Regions from separate parts of the Homo sapiens genome. Here all the other regions are linked to region 3. Evidence: fine-mapped expression QTL. A gene starts in region 3. Each other region holds a variant in brackets. All regions are shown on one strand. Distances are from middle to middle. Region 1 overlaps C1QTNF1 (C1q and TNF related 1). Region 2 overlaps C1QTNF1 (C1q and TNF related 1). Region 3 holds the start of ENGASE (endo-beta-N-acetylglucosaminidase).

Region 1 (7,201 bases), 34 kb after region 3:
AAGCCGACACTTGGCCCACCCAGTCTCCGCTGTCCTCTCCTGTCCTGCAGTGTGATAAGACGCGTGGGCCATGGACACCAGCTCTTGGTCCAGCATCTCTCCTAAGGCCATGCTCCACTTCTCCCTGCCTCCAAGTGGTGCCTAGGTCCCCAGCAGATATTCTCAGCGGACAAAGTGAGAATGGAAAGACAAACTGGAGGGCAGGTTGGGAGCTTGGTCTGCTCTTAAGGAGGCAGCTGCAAAGCCACTTGCAGACCCCACTCCTTTAGGCTCGTGGTGAGGCTGGATCACTGTCCGCAGTTTCAGGTGAGGTGCCCAAGCCACTGAAAGGAGGAATCGCTCGTCTGTCCTGCAGGACCAGCCTCCAGCAGGGCCACGGCTCAGCTTCAGCTTTCTTGCCTTCACATCTCACAGTGAACTAGCTCCCCCAGGGGCCCCAAGGCCCAGGCTCAGCCTGGCCAGAGCCAGAGCTCCTGCTATTACACCCTCGTGGCCCCTCACCTCTCGGCATGGTCCGGAGGCGACGGCAGCTCCTCAGTCCCCTCCCACTCCTGCTGTTCCCCCTGGACATGGGGCACACGACTCAGGACCAGGCCAGAGGCAAAGGCAAGGAGCAGGCAGTACGCCAGCAAGAGTCCCTGTCCACGGGAGCCCATCTTCCTGCCGGGCCCTGGTGGGAAAGAAACACACAGGGAAGGCACCGAGTTAGGAAGGAGCTGCACAGAGAAACAGCCTGAAAATTGGGGAGAGAAACAGCCTGGAAATCGGAGGTGCTTCCCCAGCCTCACGCCACTGGGAAATGCTGCAGTTACACAGCTTCTGGGAGGACAATCACTCTCACACACCCATGCATGCATACACGCACTCACGACGCACTCACGTGCACACACGCACATGCACACACATTCACATACATGCAACCCCCACACATGCACACACTCAACACACATGCAATCCACACATGCACACACAGTCACATACACTCACATGCAACCCACACATTCACATGCACCCAACACACATGCAATCCACACACATGTAATCCACACACATGTACACACAATACACATGCACAGTCTCAACAATGAAACCTACACACATGCATACATATACCCACATCACATGCACACTCATGCAATCCACGCACCCATATGCACACTCTTAACACACATGGAATCCACACGCTCACATGCACACAGTCAACACACATACACTCACACTCACATGCACATACATGCACATACACAGTCCACACACATGCACTCACACATGCAATCCACATGCTCACATGCACTCAACACACATGCACAACTCACATGCACACATACCCAAATCACATGCACACTCTCAACACACATGCACACACATGCATACATATACCCATATCACATGCACACAGATTCACACACACATGCAATCCACACACATGCACACTTTTACATGCACTCACACACATATACCATCACATGCACTCACATGCAATCCAACATGCACACACATTCACATACATGCAATCCATGCACACATGCACACACATACACACATGCAACCCACACACACATGCAACCCACACATGCACACACATTCATATACATGCAATCCACACACATGCACATTCGCATACATGCAATCCACACATGCACACTTTCAACACACGTGCACACATTAACATGCACACATATACCCACATCACATGCACACTCACGTGCACGCCCGCATACTCTCAACACATTCACATGCATGCACATCCACTCATGCACACATGCGCTCACATGTACACACACCTTCACATGTGCGCACACACTCTGCCCCCAGAGCCTCAGCCAGTCAGGCTGGTGTTGAGGGGTTGCTGAGCAAGGTGCTGTCTCTGCCCACCCAGCCTCTCGGGAAGGAGAGTCCATCAGCCGCTGGCCCCACAGACAATTGTATACCACCCCTCTTAGGACAGTAAGAAAAATCCCAAGCAAGCTTTGAATGATCATCATCCCTTAACTCAAAGCAAAGCTGGCTCAATGACCAGGTCCTTCACCGGTGGGTAGGTGGGTAGGAAGGTGGCTGCAAGCTGCTTTCTGGCCACCAGGCGGCGCATCAGCAGGTGTCCTTGGCATCTACTTTAGGGATGTGCCAAGCCCAGCCCCACAGAGCAGTCATCCTTCCAGGAAGCCAACCCCACGTCTCACTCCCAGAGCTTTTGGCAAAAGCTTGGGGCAGGACCCCCTCCATCCAGTATTGGGACAGTCCTTCTAGAAAGGGGTGCTCACGGAGGTGGGGAGTCCAGGGAGCCCGCGAGGGGCGGCACTTGGGCCCACATTAGGCGAACGCCCACCTGCCACCCTGTGAGCGGCTTGCTCCCCTCGCCCAGGAATCTGGCATCA[G/A]GAGTCGCAGGCCCAGCCGTTTCAGGTGGGCCGAAAACCTCCCCACCGAGGGGCACAGCGACTGTGGTCAACTCTAACCCCTCTTTGTTCACCAAAATGTAAAACTCGAAATGTCGCAGGCCCCGTGGGAACACCTCATTCAACACACAGCCGCCCAGTGAGAAGGTGGGTGAGAAGCGTCCCTCACTCCTGGCTGCCAGGCCGGCGTGGACTCCAGCTCTTTCTTGAGAGGCAAACAGTGAAAGCAAGGGCTCATCTCCAAAGGCCCTGGGCCAGACTCTTTCTCCTCTAACTCCTCTTATGTCTAAGGAAAGTTAAAATCCTGACAGATTTCTTTCTCTGCCCATATTACACACCAAGATGACCGCGACGTCTTACTCATCTTGGGAAGCCGGGAATTTCTTCCACACACACCGTCGCTCGGGGGCTTTGGAGCCTCTGCGGGGGATGTCTGTAGCGGGCTTTTTTTTTTTTTTTTTGAGATGGAGTCTTGCTCTGTCACCCAGGCTGGAGTGCAGCAGTGTGATCTCGGCTCACTCCGCCTCCTAGGTTCAAGTGATTCTCCTGCCTCAGCCTCCCAAGCAGCTGGGATTACAAGCATGCGCCACCACGCCCAGCTAATTTTTGTATTTTTAGTAGAGACGGGGTTTCACCACGTTGGCCAGGCTGGTCTGGAACTTCTGACCTCAAGTGATCCACCCACCTCGGCCTCCCGAGGTGCTGGGATTCCAGGCGTGAGCCACGGCCCAGGACTTTAGTGGGCTCTTGAGTGAAGTCTGAAGGGCTCCCCGCAGAGCCCTCACGCCAAGTCAACATTGCAGGGGAAGATCTGGAGTCCAGGGCTCTCCCGATAGAGCCTCCGAGGTGACAGTGAGGAGAGCAAGGCTGGCCCCCCCGAACCTCTCTCCTCCCCTGTCACACATACCTACACCCAGTCTTCACCACCTTGCATGGCCCACGCCCCATCTCTGCAGTGGCTTAGCTGGAGCCCCCACCTCCAAGTGTCCTACCAGCCAGCTGTCCCTCCCATGCGTCAGGGCCCAGAGACCGTCCCAATGACCAAGGAGCTGCTTAGGCCACAGCCCCCACCCAGAATCTCTGATACCTCCCACCACTTGCCAAAAAAAGGGTGTATGTGCACATGGTAATTTATAAAATACACATCTAAGTTCTCTCTCCAGCTATCCGTCTAGTTAGGTTTGAGAACATTTCCTCATTAATAATTTTTATCCCATCACGGATGGCCCCACAATCCTCTAGGGAGACAATATACATTCATGACTGTAGCAGATATGTAAATGAGAAAACAGAGACTTGGAGAAGCTAATTAGCCTAAAATTCTGATTTTTTTTTTTGACAGGATCTCACTCTGTGAGTGAGTGCAGTGGTGCAATCTCGGCTCACTGCAGCCTCTGCCTCCTGGACTTGAGCCATCCTCCCACCTCAGCCTCACAAGTAGAAGGGACTGCAGGTATGCACTACCACACCCAGCTAATTTTTTTTTTTTTTTTTTTTTTTTGTAGAGACAAATTTTCACCATGTTGCCCAGGCTGGTCTCAAACTCCCGGGCTCAAGTGATCTGCCCACCTCAGCCTCCCAAAGTGCTGGGATTACAGGCGTGATCCTCCACGCCGGGCCAAGACTGATTTTTGAGCAGGGGGGCTGCATTTGGACTCAGACAGGCTGACAACAGATGACAATAAAATCCTGCCCGCCTTGTCTTCAACACCCAACTCAAGGTCTCATAGTCTTCCTGAAGCCTTCCCAGGCCCCTCAACTGGGAAAAATTCTCCATCCTCGGTCTTAGTTTTCTTTTTTGATACAGGGTCTCACTCTGCCTCCCTGTAGCCTCAACCCTCCCGGCTCAGGCCATCTGCCCACCTCAACCTCTCAAGCAGCTGGGACTACAGGCATGCGCCACCACGCCCAGCTAAATTTTTTTGTTGTTTTTTCGTAAAGACACGGTTTCACCGTGTTTCCCCGGCTCGTCTCAAACTCCTGAGCTCAAGCAATTCACCTGCCTTGGCCTCCCAAAGTACTGGGATTATAGGTGGGCGCCATAATTTTATTTTTCCTATTGTCTCCTACTGCAGAGAGTTTGTCTAGCCTATGAGAGTCTACTCAGCAGACCGTGGGTGACCTCCTCCAGGGCTGGGACGTCCCCTAGCCAAGCATCCTGCAGCACCCTGAATCACTGGTGCTCAGCAAATATTTGTCAGACTGAATTCTCTAAATTTGTTTATTTCTCCATTTCTGTATTTCCTCTGTTTCTCCTTGGTGCCTTAATAATTATTCTGTTTTTTCCTTTTAAGTGGCAAACTTGTACCAGTTAAAAGGAAAAGAGATTTTCCTTTCTTTAAATATTTTTTTCCTGAATCCCAAATTTTATATATACACATACACATGTTTACATATATATACATATATACATATTTACATATATATATATATACACACACACACACATATTTATTTAAGAGAGGTTGGAAAGTAACTACAAAACGCATTAAAAAGCTACCTTGGATTATTCTACTCTGTGGTTTCTCAACCCTGGCACCATTGAAGGATTGCTGGGTTTTTTTGTTTTATTTTATTTTGAGACAGAGTCTCGCTCTGTCACCCAGGCTGGAGTGAAGTGGCGCGATCTTGGCTCACTGCAACCTCCGCCTCCCAGGTTCAAGTTATTCTCCTGCCTCAGTCTCCCTAGTAACTGAGATTATATGCGTGTGCCTCCACACCCGGCTAATTTTTGTATTTTTAGTAGAGACAGGGTTTCGCCATGTTGGCCAGGCTGGTCTTGAACTACTCCTGACCTCAGGTGATCCATCTGCCTCGGCCTCCCAAAGTGCTGGGATTACGGGCGTTTGCCACCGCGCCAGCCAACCCTGGCACCATTGAGGTTTGGGCCTAGATAATCCCCTGTGGTGGGGGGCTAGCCTGTGTGCTGTAGGATGCTTAGCAGTAACCCTGGACTGTCCCCACCAGATGCCATTAGCACCACTACCTCTAGTTATGACAACAAAAAATGTCTCCAAACATGGTAATATGCCTGTTCCTCAGGGGCAAAATTGCCCCTAGCTAAGCACCAGCATTTGTTTTTATGTTGGTCTATCTCTTTCTAGTCTAGCAAAGGGATTTTCCACACCTTGGTCAGAAGAGACGGGGTCCAGGATGCAGCTGGGTTAGGAACGATGCTGTCACTGGGGTGGGGTGGGGCTGGGAAACCCCAGCAGAGAGCCCCAGGCTCAGGCTGGTAGGGACAAGGCCACTTTGGCGGTGGTGGCTCTCCTCAAAAGCCTGCTGTTCGGAGTCAGAGCAAACCCAGGTTGAAATCTTTCCTTCCTGAAAAGATCTTAAGAAGCATTTTACCAAATCCCACAGCAAAGCCAGCGTCATAACATGATGATCATTTTAGTCACTTTTGGGCAAAGACAGTATTGCCCAACATCTAACCAAACTTGGCTCCAGATCACTGTTAGTGATTTCCAGCAAAAATCCCCCTACAGTAGGGAGGCTGTGTCCCAGCAAGGTTATCTGGAAGAATGTGTTAGGCAGTTCCAGGGAAGTGCCCTGAGCACATCTTGGCCAGTGACGTGAAACCTGTGTGAATCCAGATCCACGTGGCCCAGTCTCCAGGCCTCATCGCAGGCAAGGCAACTGAAGACAGTTCCAGCATGACTCAAGCTCTTTACTTGCCTTTCCCAAATCCTGCAAATATGAGCCAATTTCCATGGTAATTCGGCGACCATTTTCCTTCCCTCCATGTCCCTGAGGACTAGCCGCTCTTCAGCGTCCCTTCCTCAACCCCACATCATCCACCTACACCTGACCTTCTCCCCAACAAGAACACATCCCCCTTTACAGGAGGAGGGAGGCCAGAAAAGAGAAACCAGGCTACACGCAGGACGTAGAGGAGGACAGGAAGCCTGAGGACACATCCTTGTGAATAATTTGTATCCCGGCCGGGCGCGGTGGCTCACGCCTGTAATCCCAACACTTTGGGAGGCCAAGGCAGGTGGATCACCTGAGGTCAGGAGTTCAAGACCAGCCTGGCCAACATGGTGAAACCCCATCTCTACTAAAAATACAAAAATTAGCTGGGCGTGGTGGGGTGCACCTGTAGTCCCAGCTACTCGGGAGGCTGAGGCAGGAGAATTGCTTGAACTCAGGAGGCAGAGGTTGTGGTGAGCCAAGATCGCGCCACTGCACTCCAGCCTGAGCAACAGAGTGAGACTCCGTCTCAAAAAAAAAAAGAAAAAGAAAAAAATTGTATCCCTTGTTTGCTTGTGGTGGCTCACACCTGTCATCCCAGCACTTTGGGAGGCCAAGGTGGGTAGATTGCTTGAGCCTAGGAATTCAAGACCATCCTGGACAACATGGTGAAGCCCCATCTCTACCAAAAACACAAAAATTAGCCAGGCATGGTGGTGTTCGCCTGTAGTCCCAGCAGCTGCTCAAGAGACTGAGGTAGGAGGATCACCTGAGTCCAGGAAGTCAAGGCTGCAGTAAGCCATGATCGCACCACTGCACTCTAGCCTGGGTGACAGAGTGAGACCCTGTGGTAATAATAATAATAATAATTTTTATCCCTCCACAGGCCTCTTAGCTCTGTGGTAGGTCCTTTAAGGAGAGAGTAGTCACATGCAAGTTCACCATTCCTTATATTTGTTTCAAATTGGGCCTTTTGGCTGGGCGCAGTGGCTCACGCCTGTAATCCCAGCACTTTAGGAGGCCGAGGAGGGTGGATCACTTGAAGTCAGGGGTTCGAGACCAGCCTGGCCAACATGGCAAATCCCTGTCTCTAGTAAAAATACCAAAATTGGCCG
Region 2 (7,201 bases), 26 kb after region 3:
ACCATGTTGGCCAGGCTGGTCTCGAACTCCTGACCTTGTGATCTGCCTGCTTTGTATAGACACACTGCATTTGTTTACCTGTTCATCAGCTGAGTGGGCACTTGGGTTGTACCTGCTTCTTTGTTATTACTAATAATGCTGCTATGAACATCTATCTATAAGCTTTTCATAGACATATATTTTCATGTCTTTTGGGTATATACCTAGAAGTGTTATGGCTGGGTCAGCTGTAGCTCTATGCTTAACATTTTGAGGAACTGCCAGGCTGTCTTCTAAAGGGGACTCACCATTTTGTATTCCTGACAGCAGTTCCAGCAGCTCCATATCCTCAGCAACACATGTTATCATCTGTCTTCTTGACAACAGCCTTCCCATTGGTTGTAGAGTTGTCTCACTGTGGTTTTGATTTGCGTTTCCCTGATGATACACCTGTTCATGTGTGTATTGGTGGTTGTAGAGTTGTGTCTCACTGTGGTTTTGACTTGCATTTCTCTGATGATTACACCTGTTCATGTGTGTATTGGTTACTTGTATATCTCCTCTGGAGAAGTGTGGGCTGCTTTGCCCATTTTTAATTAGATTATTTGTCTTTTTATTATTGAGTTGCAAGAGTTCTTTATATATTCTAGATATAAGTCCCTTATCAGATATATGATGGCAAATATTTTCTCCCATTCTGTGAGTTGTCTTTTCACTTACTTGATGGTGTCCTTTGAAACACAGAAATTTACAAGTTTGATGATGTGCAGTTGATCTATTTTTTTCTTTTGTTGCTTGTACCTTTGATATCATACCTAAGAAATCATCACCTAATCCAAGGTCATGAAGATGTATGCCTGGGCTTTCTTCTAAGAATTTTGTAGTTTTGGCTCTAATATTTAGGCCTTTGATCCAAGGCCTAATTTTCGTATATGGTGTGAGGTAGGGGCCCAACTCCATTCTTTTGCATGTTGGGACATCGATATCTTGCATTATTTATTATTTTCTGTTACATTCTATTTTTTTTTAATAATCTGGGCAACAATGTCTCATCTTATGCTAGTCATTATGGCCCAATAAAATCAGCTTGCCATCACGCCACTGCGTTCCCATAGTGGACCTTACAGAAAATTATCATTGAGGACTAGTGTGGGCCATGACCTCCTCATCCCCATCCCTGGCTACAAAAGCTCCTGAAAGTCCTAACATAGGCAGTTATTTCGTTGGGCTGAGTCATCAGCCATTACTAAGTCCTTTTGCTAAAACACTGATATTTGTATTGCAACTGAGTTTTCTAGACCCTTTAGTGAGATGGCTAGCCAATTTCTCACCAGCTTGGGACAGGAAACCGGGAGAGGATCCCGTCAAGATCAACTGCTTGGGGAGGCATCAGGTGGAGCAGATCACTTGGTACCAAGCGTGCAGCTCTTCTGAGAAGGCTGACCTCTGTCAGACGGCAGTCGAAACCCTGGGAAAGTCCTCAGGAAGGCAAGGACCATATCTTATCTGTCCTTATGCCTCCAGTGCCTAGCACACGATCTGCCACAAAGCAGGAGCAAGGGAAATATTTGGAGGAAGAATGGGTGGAGCATAAATGCCAGCCTGAAAATATTGGGGGTGGGGAAACCCCAAAGATAGAGGGATGTTAAAAGGAGCATGGAGCGGACTGGAGCAGACCCTGCCTCTTTTCCCATGGGAATTTGGCCAGCAGAGAAACAGGTATTATATGGTCCACGTGACTCCGTCTCCAGAGAGGGTTGTCATTGGGCACCTGTATGAAGCTGGCTGGTTCCCTCCAGGCACCTCTGGGAAGGGCACTTAGCCCTTGCTCCCCACTGCCTGGGAAGCACATCCTCTGCTGAGTGGCCTGAACTCCGCGGAGGTAGGAGCCTGCTCCTTCTCCCGTACAGAGCAGGATTGCAGGGTCCCCTTGATCCAGTCTGGCTCTAGCACAAGGCCAAGCATGAACACATGGCCTCACCCCAGGAGCGGGCAGAGGAAGGAGATCAGCTGTTTGCAGCCTGCTGGCACCAGAGAGAGCAAGGTAGCTTCTGTGCTCCCCGCTGGCAGCTGGATGCAGTGCCTGGCTGTTAACCCAGTTGGCAAGCGATGGAGAGAAGAAGGAACATCTGCTCTGCACCACTGGAGAACAGAGGGGGCTGCTGATGGGTGTATTCAAGCTGCAAGCCATGGTAGAGGTTGAACTGTATCCCCCAAAAAAAGATATGTCCAAGTCCTCACCTCTGCTATCTGTGAATGTCACCTTATTTGGAAATAGTCTTTGCAGACGTAATTAAGTTAGGATCTAGAGAGAAGACCATCCTGGATTTACAGTGGGCCCTAAATATTTACCTGATTCTCTAAATCCAGCAACAGGTGTTATAGTAAGGGAAGGGAGAGGAAGATTTGAGACACACGGAGGGGAAGGCCACATGAAGACGGAAGCAGAACCTGAGGAGATGCAGCCGCAAGCCAAGGAGTGCCTGGGGCTACCAATAGCTGGAAGGGGCAGGAAGGACCCTCCGCTAGAGGCTTATGCCACCCACGCCCCAACCCCAGTTTCCACGGCAGCCCTAGGAAAGGAATAGTGTCCAGGCTGCAGAGCCATGGCCAAGCTGCTACCTCCACAGTTTCTCTCCCTCCCGGGGGACAGTGCGGTCCTGCTCAGGAGATCAAGCCCCTGCCTCCCACCCACCTCTCACAAGTCCCCAGACCCACCCAGGCCCCAGGCGCCCGACTCAGGCACACGTTCAGCTGCAGCTGAGACACGCTGTCGCTGCCCCACCCATGGGAGGCTGCACCCCCTGGAGGAGCGAGGCAACTCAGGGTCCAGCATGCACCTGCTGGGTACCAATGTCCCCAGGTATGAAGCTGAGGGCCTCCCAGGCAGGAGTGGGCCTTGGGTGGAGAGGAGAAGACGAAAAGGATTCAGTTTAATGAGCAAACTGACGAGGCAGGATGCTGAAAACACAATTCTGAGTTTAATGTTTTCTGGAAAGAGCTGGGGGAGCTTAAGCAGCGAGTGTGGCGCTCTGCTTCCGGGCACGCCCACAGCAACTCGGCTTCAGAGTCTGACCCGCAGAAGTTCTTTAAAGAGAGGGACTTAGGGACCCCAGATCCCGGCAGCCAGGCCCAGAGAGGGAAGCAGGATTAGTCAAAACCAGGTGGGGGATGGGGGGAAGGAAGAGAGGCAGCGGGGGTTTGGGGGCCCAGCGGGTAGCAAGAGTGACCCTGGGCATCAACATGGGGTGAGGTGGAGAGGGGCTATGGGGTTCCTGGAGATCAGAGTCTGGGGTGGCCATGGGCAGGGCGAGAGCACCGTGGAGACACCGCAACCCTGCTCCAGCTGGTCCTGCAATTGCCACAGGGGCTATTGCCTCTCCTGCCACCCAGCTCCTGAGAGTGAATCCTGACACGGGTGATTGGGA[C/T]GTGTACTTCCTCTTGACTCTGGTCTCAGGACTGAGGCTCACAGGAGCCTGAGAAACAGACAAGCGGGAGCTTTCTAGCCCCTTCCAGCTCTCCCCTGCTCTGAAGCCTAGAAAAAGCCCCTCTCAGGCTACTGGTCAGAGGCCTGGATGAGGGCAGTGGGGGCAGAAGGGGTCTGGATCAGCCTTGCTGCCAACCAACACAACACACGTGGAAGCGGTGATGCTTAGCCCACGAGGAGATGGGAGACTGCAGTGCTGCTTGAGGTGTTTTATAAAAAACAGAAGCCAAGGCCCCGGGGCCTTCTGGGGCTGATTTGTGTGGGAGGCGGCACAGAAAGCCGATGCCAGGGTGGCAGGCATGGAGACCACCCCCCAGGGCTCTGGGGTGGCACAGGGGTGGAGCAGAGCCACACATGGATGTACCAGGAGCTCTGCCCCTCATAGAAACATCTGCAGGCCTGGGGGACCCAGGGGTCCCTGGCCACTGTCAGGAGCCCTTCGGCTGCTTCTACCAACCTGGAGCCAAGGCAGGGGGCTCAGCTGTCCCTCTGGGAGGCTGACGCCTGGGGCCCCAGCCCCCATCACCTCGCAGCTGTGACTCAGAAAGACCAGCAGAGCCCTTGGGCAAGGCCACAGGGATGTCAGGGTCCACCTATCCCTCAAGAAAGTTCCTACGTGGCTTAAAAGAATTAAGCCAGAGGTAGTTTCCTGCCCCCGGCCCCTCCCCTGACCCCAGAGCTTTAACTTTGGATCTTCTCTTAAGCAGAGTCTCAACTGAAAAGGCCTCTCTCTTGGGAGCCAGCAGGCTGGCTGGAAAGACAAAAATAACAACCCTTTTCTTTGTCCTCCACGGTTTACTTTGCTCCTTTTGAGACCTTTAGAATTTGCCTAATTATTTCCAAGGACTGGAGCCGCGGTGCCGCACCCTGGGACGCCCTGCCGCCACCCGCGTCTCGCCGTGCGGGGTCACTTGAGGATGTGTGCAGAGAGGGCCGCGGAAGGTCCCAGAGGGTTCTCGCGGGTGCCCCGCCCTGGTGATTTCATCTGCCGTCAGCTCTCTCCAGAGGCTGCGGGATCTGGGAGCACCGATCGCTTTGGCTTTCTGTGTGTGCAGGGCGTCTCACTGAATGCCAAAGCCAGGGAGTCGGAGTCCAGGGATCGGGGAAGAGGCGGTGGGGTCAGCACAGCGCAGGGGTGGAAGGTGGCGAGAGGAAAGGAGGTGGCCGGCCAGCTAGGGCTCGGTGGCGTGCTTGACCAGGTAGCCACTGAAGGTGATGTAGGTGTCCAGCTCCTCGCTGAAGATGGCGTTCTCACGTTCGCCCTTGTAGAGGCGTACCCACACCTGGTCCTGCTCTCGCAGCTCCAGCATCAGGCTCTGGCTTTGCATGATGCTGCGGTCGCCCACCTGCGCGAACAAGATCACCACCTCCTCCTCGTTCTTCATGATGTGCAGGTAGGTCTCCTTCTGGTTCCAGGTGTGCACGTTGAGGCTGAAGAAGTAGAGGCCGGGCACGTAGCAGTAGAACTTGCCGGTGAACATGTTGAAGTGGTCGTAGAGGTTCACGAACTCCGTGTCGAAGATCACCGTCTGGTAGTAGTGGTTGCTGTGCATGGGCTTCTTCCGGCCCACCGAAAAGGCGGCGTAGTGGCTCTTGCACCGCTCCCCAGGGGCCCCCATGGAGCCCTTCTGCCCTTTGGGTCCAGTGTGGCCCCTGGCCCCTGCTGAGCCTGTTTTGCCATATTTCCCTTGGAGGCCTCGATCTCCGCGGTCACCCTTCTCCCCTAAAAGGGATGGGAAAACGCGTGCTGTTAATGGAGCAATCCGGTAGTGTCCTGAGCCTTGGCTGCTCACTCTCCGGTCCCTGGCGCTGTCCTGATTCGTCCTCACAGCCCTGACCTGGCAGAAGCTTCACTCCTGCCCCCAGCCCCCTGCCACGGGCGGCGTCCCAGCCTGGCACAGAGGTATTGTGATTCCCAAAATGGCCAAGCAAACAGACTCAACCTCAAGGATGGTTCTATTTTCGCCCAGAAGCAATAATTTTTTTTTCCTTCTGGAAAGCCCTGGTAAAAAAAAAAAAAAAGAAAAGAAAAAAAAGAAAATGGAACATACGGGTTCGTCCAAAAGCAATGGGCTCTGCGGCCAGACCGACGGCTCGCTCTGAGCAAATGAACTCCAGATGTCGGGGCCAGCTGGGGATCTAGGCTGCAAGTGTTTCCAGTTCGATTTCACGGGGCTGTGCAGGGTTATCTGCCGTGTGCAGGACCGGAGCGAGCAGGTGGCATTTCAGAAAGCAGGCTGGGGGACCAAGCCCCAAAGCAAAGGGCCTAGAAGCCTGGCGTCCACATACAACTGGAGGGACGAGACCCCGAGTAGCCTCTGGGCTCCCTCTCCTGCTCTTGGTCCTGTGGGCCCCTTTCCAACCCCTCCTCTTGGAGAGGGGCCAGAGCCTCAAAATCAGAATTTCCTGTGCCTTCCCCTCTAGATGACAGCCTGCCTGCCTCTGCTCCCTGTCCCGAGGGAGCCATTCTGCTCTCGCCTAGCCCCACCCTAACGACTCCATCCCTTCCTCCGGATCAGCACAGAGCAGCCCGGCCACCCCGTGCTTGTCTTTGCAGCCATCTGACCTTTCAAGATAGTGATGTTGATCTGGGGCACGGCGGTCGCCGGGTACATGGAGGTACCGGGGTCACAGCAGCGCAAGCACCGGGAAGCAGGGAGCCCCTGGTCCTGACTGGGCCTGTATTTTTCATGTTGTTCTTCAGCCCTGAGGGAATAAAGAATCACAGTGAAAGTCAGCCACTCTCAGGCCTGGAAACGCTGCTCTCTCCTGCTGCCAGTGGTTCTGGCATGCCTGACCTGCCTTCTCACTCTCTCACCTGGACCCACAAGGCTCTGTGTTCACGCTGGTGGGCTCACGGCCCACTCTGGGATCCTCACTACCGAACGAGCCCCCTGCCCTCTGTTAAAGGCAATGACAGTCCTGGAAACACACGCAGCGATCAATTGAGTGCCACGCAAGATGGGGGCTGCTCGGGAGAAATCCACACTTCTAAGAGAGGGTCTTTGGGTGACACAAGACAATGCCGGGACTCCCTATCGTATATCCGTGATGCTAGAAAATAACATATGAAGCTGACTCGTCTGCAAATAAGAAGGTTCAACTGGATCTTTAGGATTCCCCTCAGCTGTAGCCGCTGGAGAGACTCTTATGTTTCCAACCTGATTGGAAGGACAAGCCCGCAGGCAGGATGGACGGCGGCGGCTCCTGGCTGCCACCTCGCGGCCCCTCATGGCATCACATGTGCTCTGGCTTGTGGCTCTTCTTGCCCAGGCTGTAGAGCTGCGCAGACCCACGGGGGCAGCAAAGTCCCCCTGGATGGGCCAGCTCCTCATCTAATGCTGCTCCCACTTCTGCACCCCAGACTATCCAGGAAACGGATCTCTGTGCCCTAAGTTCAGCTACCCATAAGCCCAGGACTCCCAGATGGACATCTCACCCCTACCTCTCTCCTAAGCCCCAGACCTTGACTTCAAACTTCTCACCAGAAGTCTCCATCTGGAGATGCAACAGGCCCCACAGATGTCATGTATGCAAAACCGAAACCCCTGTCCCCATCCCTTCGCCCCTGGAATCTTCTCTTTCTGAGCTCTGTTCCTGGCATCAACAGCGGGTGCCCAGGGTGGAGCCTTCGGCATCACCCCCGACTCCCTCCGCCAACCCCCTGGCACAACTTTCAGCAGAGTCCTGGGCTCCCAGCCAAAAGGCACCTCCAGAACTGAGCCCAGGGCCCTC
Region 3 (7,201 bases):
GAGCTGCGCCCAAGGTTTCACCACCTGCTTCTATCTCTACCTTGATGGTTGGCTCTGACTCAAGCCTTCCCATCAATCACAGGGTCCAAGATTGTTTTATGGACATTTAAAAGCGCCGCGCGGACTCCACGGCAACTTTGGATGGGACGTCTGCACCTGGGGTGGGTGGGGCATGTAACATCTCTGTGCATGAAAGCCAGAGCCCAGCGACCCAGAACAGGATCAGAGCTTAAGGGAAGAAGGTGACGAACACCAAACCACGTGAGGGGGTGAGGCTGCGGACAGGCAGCCGAAGAGGACCCCCTGCCTGCTGTGCTCCCTCCAATCTACTACCAGCCTTCAAGTTGAGGAGGTTCAAGGAGTCAAATGATTCTAGAGCTGAAAGGGACATAAGACACTGCCTAATCCAACCTTCCTTTTTTTATTTTTTATTTTTTTGAGACAGAGTCTCACTCTGTTGCCCAGGCTGGAGTGCAGTAGTGCAATCTTGGCTCACTGCAATCTCTGCCTCCCTGGTTCAAGCGATTCTCCTGCATTAGCCCCCTAAGTAGCTGGGATTACAGGCACCTGCCACCATGCCTGGCTAATTTTTCTATTTTTAGTAGGGGCAGAGTTTCGCCATGTTGGCCAGGCTGGTCTCAAACTCCTGAGGTCAGGTGACCCACCTGCCTTGACCTCCCAAAGTGCTGGGATTATAGGTGTGAGCCACCAAGCCCAGCCCAGTCTTCCCTTTTTACAGATGAAACACTGGGGCCTGCCTTCTTCTCGCAGTTAGTGCCATCCCTCCAATGCCCGTCTCCTGACTCCCCGCCCAGTGCTCTTTCTACACATGGCACTCTCTCCCGCCCCTCCAGCCCCCACCCCAGCAAAGGAGAACAATGTAAGCAACATCAATGTAAGGCCAGGTCCTCACCTGTCATCCAGGTACCCGCCCATCATGTCATGACACAACAAAGTCCGGGGCCTCTGGCTGCTCAGAGGGGGCTGGCGACACGCCAGGGGCTCCAGGGCCACATTAAAGCCATCCTCCAAGCGGGGCTTCCACGCCAAGAGCTCCTCCAGCGAAGACAAGTAAAAGCTGATTGGTTTGGTGGTGTCCTTGTCATAATATCTAACTGGTCCGAGGACAGAAACATTGAGCAATTAATGGAAACTATTATAGGATTAATCGAAACATTTTAACAATAACAGAGAAGGAACATGAGAGGGGGCAGGGGCTGACCTGCCCCAAAGCCCCAGGTGTGAAGGTGGATCGGTATTCAGAGCCTCTGTCTCCTCACCTGGCAGGGGGTCCGGGGAAAAACTGACCACCTCTCGAAAGACTGTCTCTTCTTCTTCATCTTTGATGCTAAGCAAAGAGGGAGTTGTACATTTATAAATAAAAACATAAATAGGTAAGAACACTTAGAAGCAAATGGACCAGTTTCATCTAAACACAGAGAGATATTCTCTGCCTTATGTTGTTTAATATTAACTATAGAAACATTGTATAAAGCAAGGAAGTGCCCTGTGATAATCCTAAGGTTTTACCTATATTAGCAACCAGGGCTTGGCTTCCACATGGACACACGTACCAATGATTACTCCTAAGAATAAACCTTACCCTAGGCCAGACGCAGTGGTTCACGCCTGTAATCCCAACACTTTGGGAAGCCAAGGCAGGCGAATCACCTGAGGTCAGGAGTTAAAGACCAGCCTGGCCAACATGGCAAAACCCCATCTCTACTAATACAAAAATTAGCTGGGCATGGTGGCACACGCCTGTAATCCCAGCACCTTGGGAGGCTGAGGCAGGGAGAATCACTTGAACCTGGGAGGCGAAGGTTGCAGTGAGCCGGGACTGTGCCACTACACTCCAACTTGGGCAACAGAACGAGACTCCATCTCAAAAAAATAAATAAATAGAATAAACCTTACCCTCTAAAGCAGCCACCCCAATACCACAAAGACCAGACATAAATACTTCACAGGGTCCCCAGGATTTTCTATGGCCAAGGGGCAATATCCAAATACCCAAAGCACCAGAAAGTTTCAGGTCCTAAGAGAGCAGAGACCAGGCTTCCTCTATAGGCCACACTTCCCTAAGTGCCTTCCGCGCTGTTCATGGATGTATGTTACAGGGAGAAAGAGTTCCTTCGTTCCTTCGGTACATTAACATGGAAAGCTCCTAAATACATCTCAAACCACTTTCTTTTAAAAATTGATTGATTAATTGAGACAGAGTCTCGCTCTGTCGCCCAGGCTGGAGTAAGGTGGTGAAATCTCAGCTCACTGCAACCTCCAGTTCCTGGGTTCAAGTGAGTCTCCTGCCTCAGCCTCCCAAGTAGCTGGGATTACAGGCATCTGCCACCACGCCTGACTAATTTTGTACTTTTAGTAGAGACTGAGTTTCACCATGTTGGCCAGGCTGGTCTCAAACTCCCGAACTCAGGTGATCACACGCCTCAGCCTCCCAAGTGCTGAGATTACAGGCATAAGCCACCATGCCTGGCCTAAAAAATCATTATTATTTTAGGAGCAGTAAGAAGACACCGCAGTGGCTATTTAGAGGCCATGGCACCAACGTTGAGATTCCCTAAATCTACCAACGCCCAAGGCCACTTCTTTGTTCACTGAGTTGTCATCTGCCATCACTCCACTGCCATTCAGAGGCCTGTTGCAAAGAGTCCTCTGTAGCATCTGCCATCACCAAACACTGACCCAGGGCCTCCAGAATGACATTGGGAGACCCTGAGAACTGCAGGGGTCGGGGACGGATTCAAGCAGAGATGCCGCAGTTGTTCCTCTCCACCTTCCTTTTCCAAAGCCCCCTTCCTCGTTGATGTCCTTATTATACTTCAGCCACCCCCTCCCAGACCTTCTCAGAACAATCCCACACCAGGTCACCTTTGTCACCTGTCATTCCTCCACTAGGAGGGAAAGAGCCATCTCCACATTCCTCCTGTCCAAAAATATCTTTCCCAGCAGCCAGCCTTCATCCCATCTTCATGAGGTCTGAAATGCTCAGCAGTCTCACTGCTTTGGGTTTAGAAACAAAGCTACGGCTGCTGTTTCCGGAAGCCATGTCTGTGCTCCTAACTTCTCCCCCTGCAACCTACTGAGGGGGAGTTTACCGGGTGGGCAAGTGCCCCCCAAAGGAAGGAAGCCCAGCCCAGAGGGGCATGTTCGTCCCTTTCTGTCTCTGTGCTTTGGCCCTTTCTGTTCCCCGCCAGTTGGATACCCTACTCCCTATTCTCCACCTACTGAAGGCTTCCTCCTCCCCAAAGACTCAGTTCTAGTGTCACCCCTACAGAAGGCCACCCCTTCCACCAGCCGGCATCCACTGAGCCAGGCATGAGCACCGCCGCCGGGATCTTCCGCATAGACCAGCGACGTGGGAAGCAGGGGTCTGGCCGGGGCGTCGGGATTCCCGCTGGGCCCCGCGGCCACTCGGGTTTGCACCCGTATTTCTGAGATAGGCAGGGGTCACGCACGGGGGCCGGAGGCCGCTGCCCGGCAGTGGCGCGAGGACGGCGGGGCGGACCGGGGCGGAGGGGCGCTGCCACCCTCTGTCCCTTACTGTGCACGGAGCGGACACAGGCGCCGGCCCCCCGCCCCTCGGCGCGCCCGTGCCGGGAAACCTCGGGCCCCGGGGCCACGGACTCTCAGCCCCGCGGATCGGGGTTCACGCGGGCCCCGCAGCCCCACCTCCTTCCCGGCCGCCGCCGCCGCGGCCGCGGCTCCTGATCCTCCTGCTCCTCCTGCGTCCCCGCCTCCGGGGCCGCCAGCCCCTGCAGCTGCCGCCGCCGCCGCCGTGTAGCCGACCGGGTGACCGTCACCGCCGCGGCCTCCATGACACTGTCCGCGCACGCCGAGAGGCAATCGCAGGCCCGGGCCCGCCCCCGCGCCGCGCTCGGCCAATGGGAAGTGCGCAGCGCTGACGCCGCGCTGGGACGGGACTCCGAGCTGACTCCCGGCCAGCGGCCGCGCGGCGGGGACTTTGTTGAGGCGACAGGCCGGGGGCGGGGCCGAGGACGGGGCGGGGCTGTGAGGGGCGGGGCCTGGGCGAGTTCCGAGCCCAGGGTTCGTCGTCGTTCTTGTTGTTGCCCATCATTGGCTATGAGTCCAGGGTGCTAGAAGGCTCTAGAAGGCTTCGGAACGCCCCAATCTTAGAGTTCTCTCTTTAGCCTCACCAGCTTCCTTTGTCAAGCAAACCGAGGTTTATCCCAGAGAGATTAAGCAATCTCCCAGAGGGCACAAAGTCAGCAAATGGTGGCAATGAGATTTTAACTCATGCAGCTAACCCCTATTAAAAGATAATTTTCAGACCGGGCGCGGTGACTCACGTCTGCGATTCCAGCACTTTGGGAGGCCGAGGCGGGCGGATCACCTGAAGTCAGGAGTTCGAGACTACCCTGGCCAACATGGTGAAACCCCGTCTCTACTTAAAATACAAAAATTAGCCGGGCGTGGTGGTGCATGCCTGTAATCCCAGCTACCTGAGAGGCTGAGACTGGAGAATCGCTGGAACCCGGGAGGCAGAGGCTGCAATGAGCCGAGACGGTGCCATTGCACTCCAGCCTGGGCGACAGAGGGAGACTCCGTCTCAAAAAAAAAAAAAAAAAGATGAAAGGTTAGTAGGTTAGTATCGGGCCATGTGGAAGCTGGTGTCCTATGTAGGATGCATAGTTTTCCAGTGAAACACGGATTTCTTTCTACAGCCCCACGCCTGTGCCCAACAGTAGTAGTTGCTCTACCCCTAAGCGTGCAGGGCCTGGAGTGGCACCTCTGCAAGAGTGGCACTGCCCAGCGTCTTAGGCACAAAAGGAGTTCACAGGAAACATGATAGAACAGAGCCCTGAGAAGCCAGAACTCAAGGCTGGGCCCCACAGGGCAAACCAAGGCTCTCCTCCCTCCAGGCCCCAACGCCCCTCCACAGCTAGGAGCTTCCAGTGCTGGGCTGCAGCTGCCGCCCAAGCCAAGTTGACTGGGCCTTTATTATTGTTGCAGACTTTGAACTTTATGAGGCTCCAAGCTTCCATAAACGCCAATGGTGGGAACTATGACTAAGGTTGTTGAATATGGGCCATGGTGCAGGCCAGCCAGTTAGGCAGGAAGGACGGGCCACTCAGAAGCAGGACACGCTGACCCATGGGGAGGACAGAGAAGGCAGAGGGCTCCTCTTTGGGGCTTCAGTCCTGGGAAGCTTACAGTGAGCGAGGGCAGTGGATCCCCAAGTTCCCTCCTGCTGTGTTCAGGGGTGCACCGGACGTGGACAGTCTTGATCTGGGGTGCATGTAACCAGGTGTTCCCAAGCCCTCACCTGCAGCTTAGCAATAAAAATAGATAAACTTTCATCCTACCCAGGTTAGAACACAGTTCTAAGGGATACTTTGAACAGCCTTTGGGTAATGCTCAGTCTCTGGGAGAAAATATGCCCAAACCTCCCTTTTCTTCTCTCCTTTCCAAAGAGTAGGCACCTGGTCTAGAAGAGCAAGAAAGTGAAGGCAGCCTTGCACGCCCCTGAGGACAGAAAGGACTTAGGCCTTGTGGCCTCTTGTTAGCCCCTGTGGCTCGTGGTCTCTCTGGATGTCAGGCCAAGCCTGGAGGGGCCCTGTCTGCCTTGAGCTCACATTGGCTCATACTGGGGCTCTGGATCCGTTTGAGGCCTGAGTGGGCCCTCTAAAACCCTAACCTTCTGGTGTTTTCAGATAACATACAGAGCAATCAGTTAAATTTGAATTCCAAATAAATGATGCCTGGGACATAGGACAAGCTTATATTAAAAAGTTATTGCATATTTATCTAAAATTCAAACTGAACTAGGATGCTGTCTATGCATTTGCTAAATCTGGCATCCCTACCTGTGAATCTGAACTACAGCCTCGGCAGAGCCACCCTGCCCTGTTACAGGGGCCCCTCTGACACCTCCCTGCAGGCTCTTGGCTGTCCTGGGCTCTGCCCACACCAGTACTGGTTGGTTTGGGACAGCTGAGCCTCGGGTCTCCCTGCCTGACCATGCTGTCCCATCAGCTTCCTGTTGCAGGTCGTGACGCAGTGCATGCACTTGCCTCTGCACCCCCCCTCGCCATGCCCAGAGCGCCCGGAGTGGGGACCTAGAGTCACACCTGCTTGCTCTGCCTTCCTCTGCCTCCTCCTTCATGGCCTCCGGGGGAGCCGGAAATGAGAATCAGGTGAGTGGACACCACCTGGTCCCCGGGCTTGGTTGCTGATATGCTGAAGAGTGTGGCAGGAACTAATTGTCCCCAATATTCCTTCCGAGCCTGTCCTTTAGGAACGGAAGCCCCACGTTTTTGCTGACTACATGGTAGCCCAGATGAAGACAGCATTCCCCAGAGGCAGAACTTAGACCTTCCACGTGTACTTACTTACAAGTAAGCTGTGGTTTATGAAACAAGAAACAAAGTGAGAAGTGCAATTCTGGTTGTGCCTGCAAAACAAAGGGGGCATTGCCCTCCACCTTTCCTTCCTGGCTTCTCTTGGTCGCCAGCTGGGTGCAAGGATGTGATGGCAGGAACTGCAGCAACCATCTGAGACCATGAGATGAAAGCCACTTGTGGAAGGGCTGGGAGGGGCCTAGGTCCCCAACAGCAAGACTAGTGTTGCCCTGGACTGCTTATGTCTGGACTTTTTTTTTTTTTGAGACAGAGTCTCACTCTCATCCAGGCTGGAGCTCAGTGGCGTGATCTCCGCACACTAACTGCAACCTCCAGCTCCCGGGTTCAAGCGATTCTCCTGCCTCAGCCTCCCAAGTAGCTGGGATTACAGGCGCCCACCATCACGCCTGGTAATTTTTTGTATTTTCGGTGGAGACAGGGTTTCACCATGTTGGCCAGGCTAGTCTCGAACTCCCACCTCAGTCTCCTGAATAGCTGGGAGTACAGGCGCCCACCACCACGCCAGGCTAATTTTTTTTTTTTTTCTTTGAGATGGAGTCTTGCTCTGTCATCAGGCTGATCTGCCCACCTCAGCCTCCCAAAATGCTGGAATTGCAGGCATGAGCCACTGCTCCCGGCCAGCCCAGACTCTTAAATGACAGAAATACCCTTCTGTCTTATTTAAGCCAATACTCTGTTGGTGTTTTTACAGTAGCTAAATCTAACTAAGATGAGTGGGATAAATCCTGGAATTTAGACAAACCTCTCAAAACAGCAGCCTGCTTGCAAGGCTGGTATCTTTTTTTGTCATTCAAAATCTTCTT

Evidence for each region. PIP is the estimated chance that this variant, and not a neighbour inherited with it, causes the effect. A credible set is the group of variants that fine-mapping cannot tell apart.
Region 1: its variant is the best candidate, but not a certain one, in a credible set for the expression of ENGASE in monocytes after LPS (Quach 2016, PIP 0.74).
Region 2: its variant is the best candidate, but not a certain one, in a credible set for the expression of ENGASE in fetal neocortex (Walker 2019, PIP 0.80).

What each region holds. Positions count from the first base shown.
Region 1 is chr17:79,037,424-79,044,624 of GRCh38, reverse strand. C1QTNF1 (C1q and TNF related 1) reads right to left here. Exons shown (of 4, transcript NM_030968.5): 2 at 502-670. The coding sequence starts at 656. Among named protein-coding and RNA genes, the nearest start is that of C1QTNF1-AS1, 13 kb to the right of the region's middle. RefSeq lists an enhancer at 160-660. The variant G/A (reference allele first, on the strand shown) is at 2,376.
Region 2 is chr17:79,045,526-79,052,726 of GRCh38, reverse strand. It overlaps C1QTNF1 (C1q and TNF related 1), which reads right to left. Exons shown (of 4, transcript NM_030968.5): 3 at 6,033-6,172; 4 at 2,939-5,189. The coding sequence ends at 4,639. Among named protein-coding and RNA genes, the nearest start is that of C1QTNF1-AS1, 21 kb to the right of the region's middle. RefSeq lists an enhancer at 4,874-6,073. The variant C/T (reference allele first, on the strand shown) is at 3,408.
Region 3 is chr17:79,071,577-79,078,777 of GRCh38, reverse strand. It overlaps ENGASE (endo-beta-N-acetylglucosaminidase), which reads right to left and starts at 3,954. Exons shown (of 14, transcript NM_001042573.3): 1 at 3,688-3,954; 2 at 1,281-1,348; 3 at 914-1,115. The coding sequence starts at 3,833. RefSeq lists a silencer at 3,553-4,092.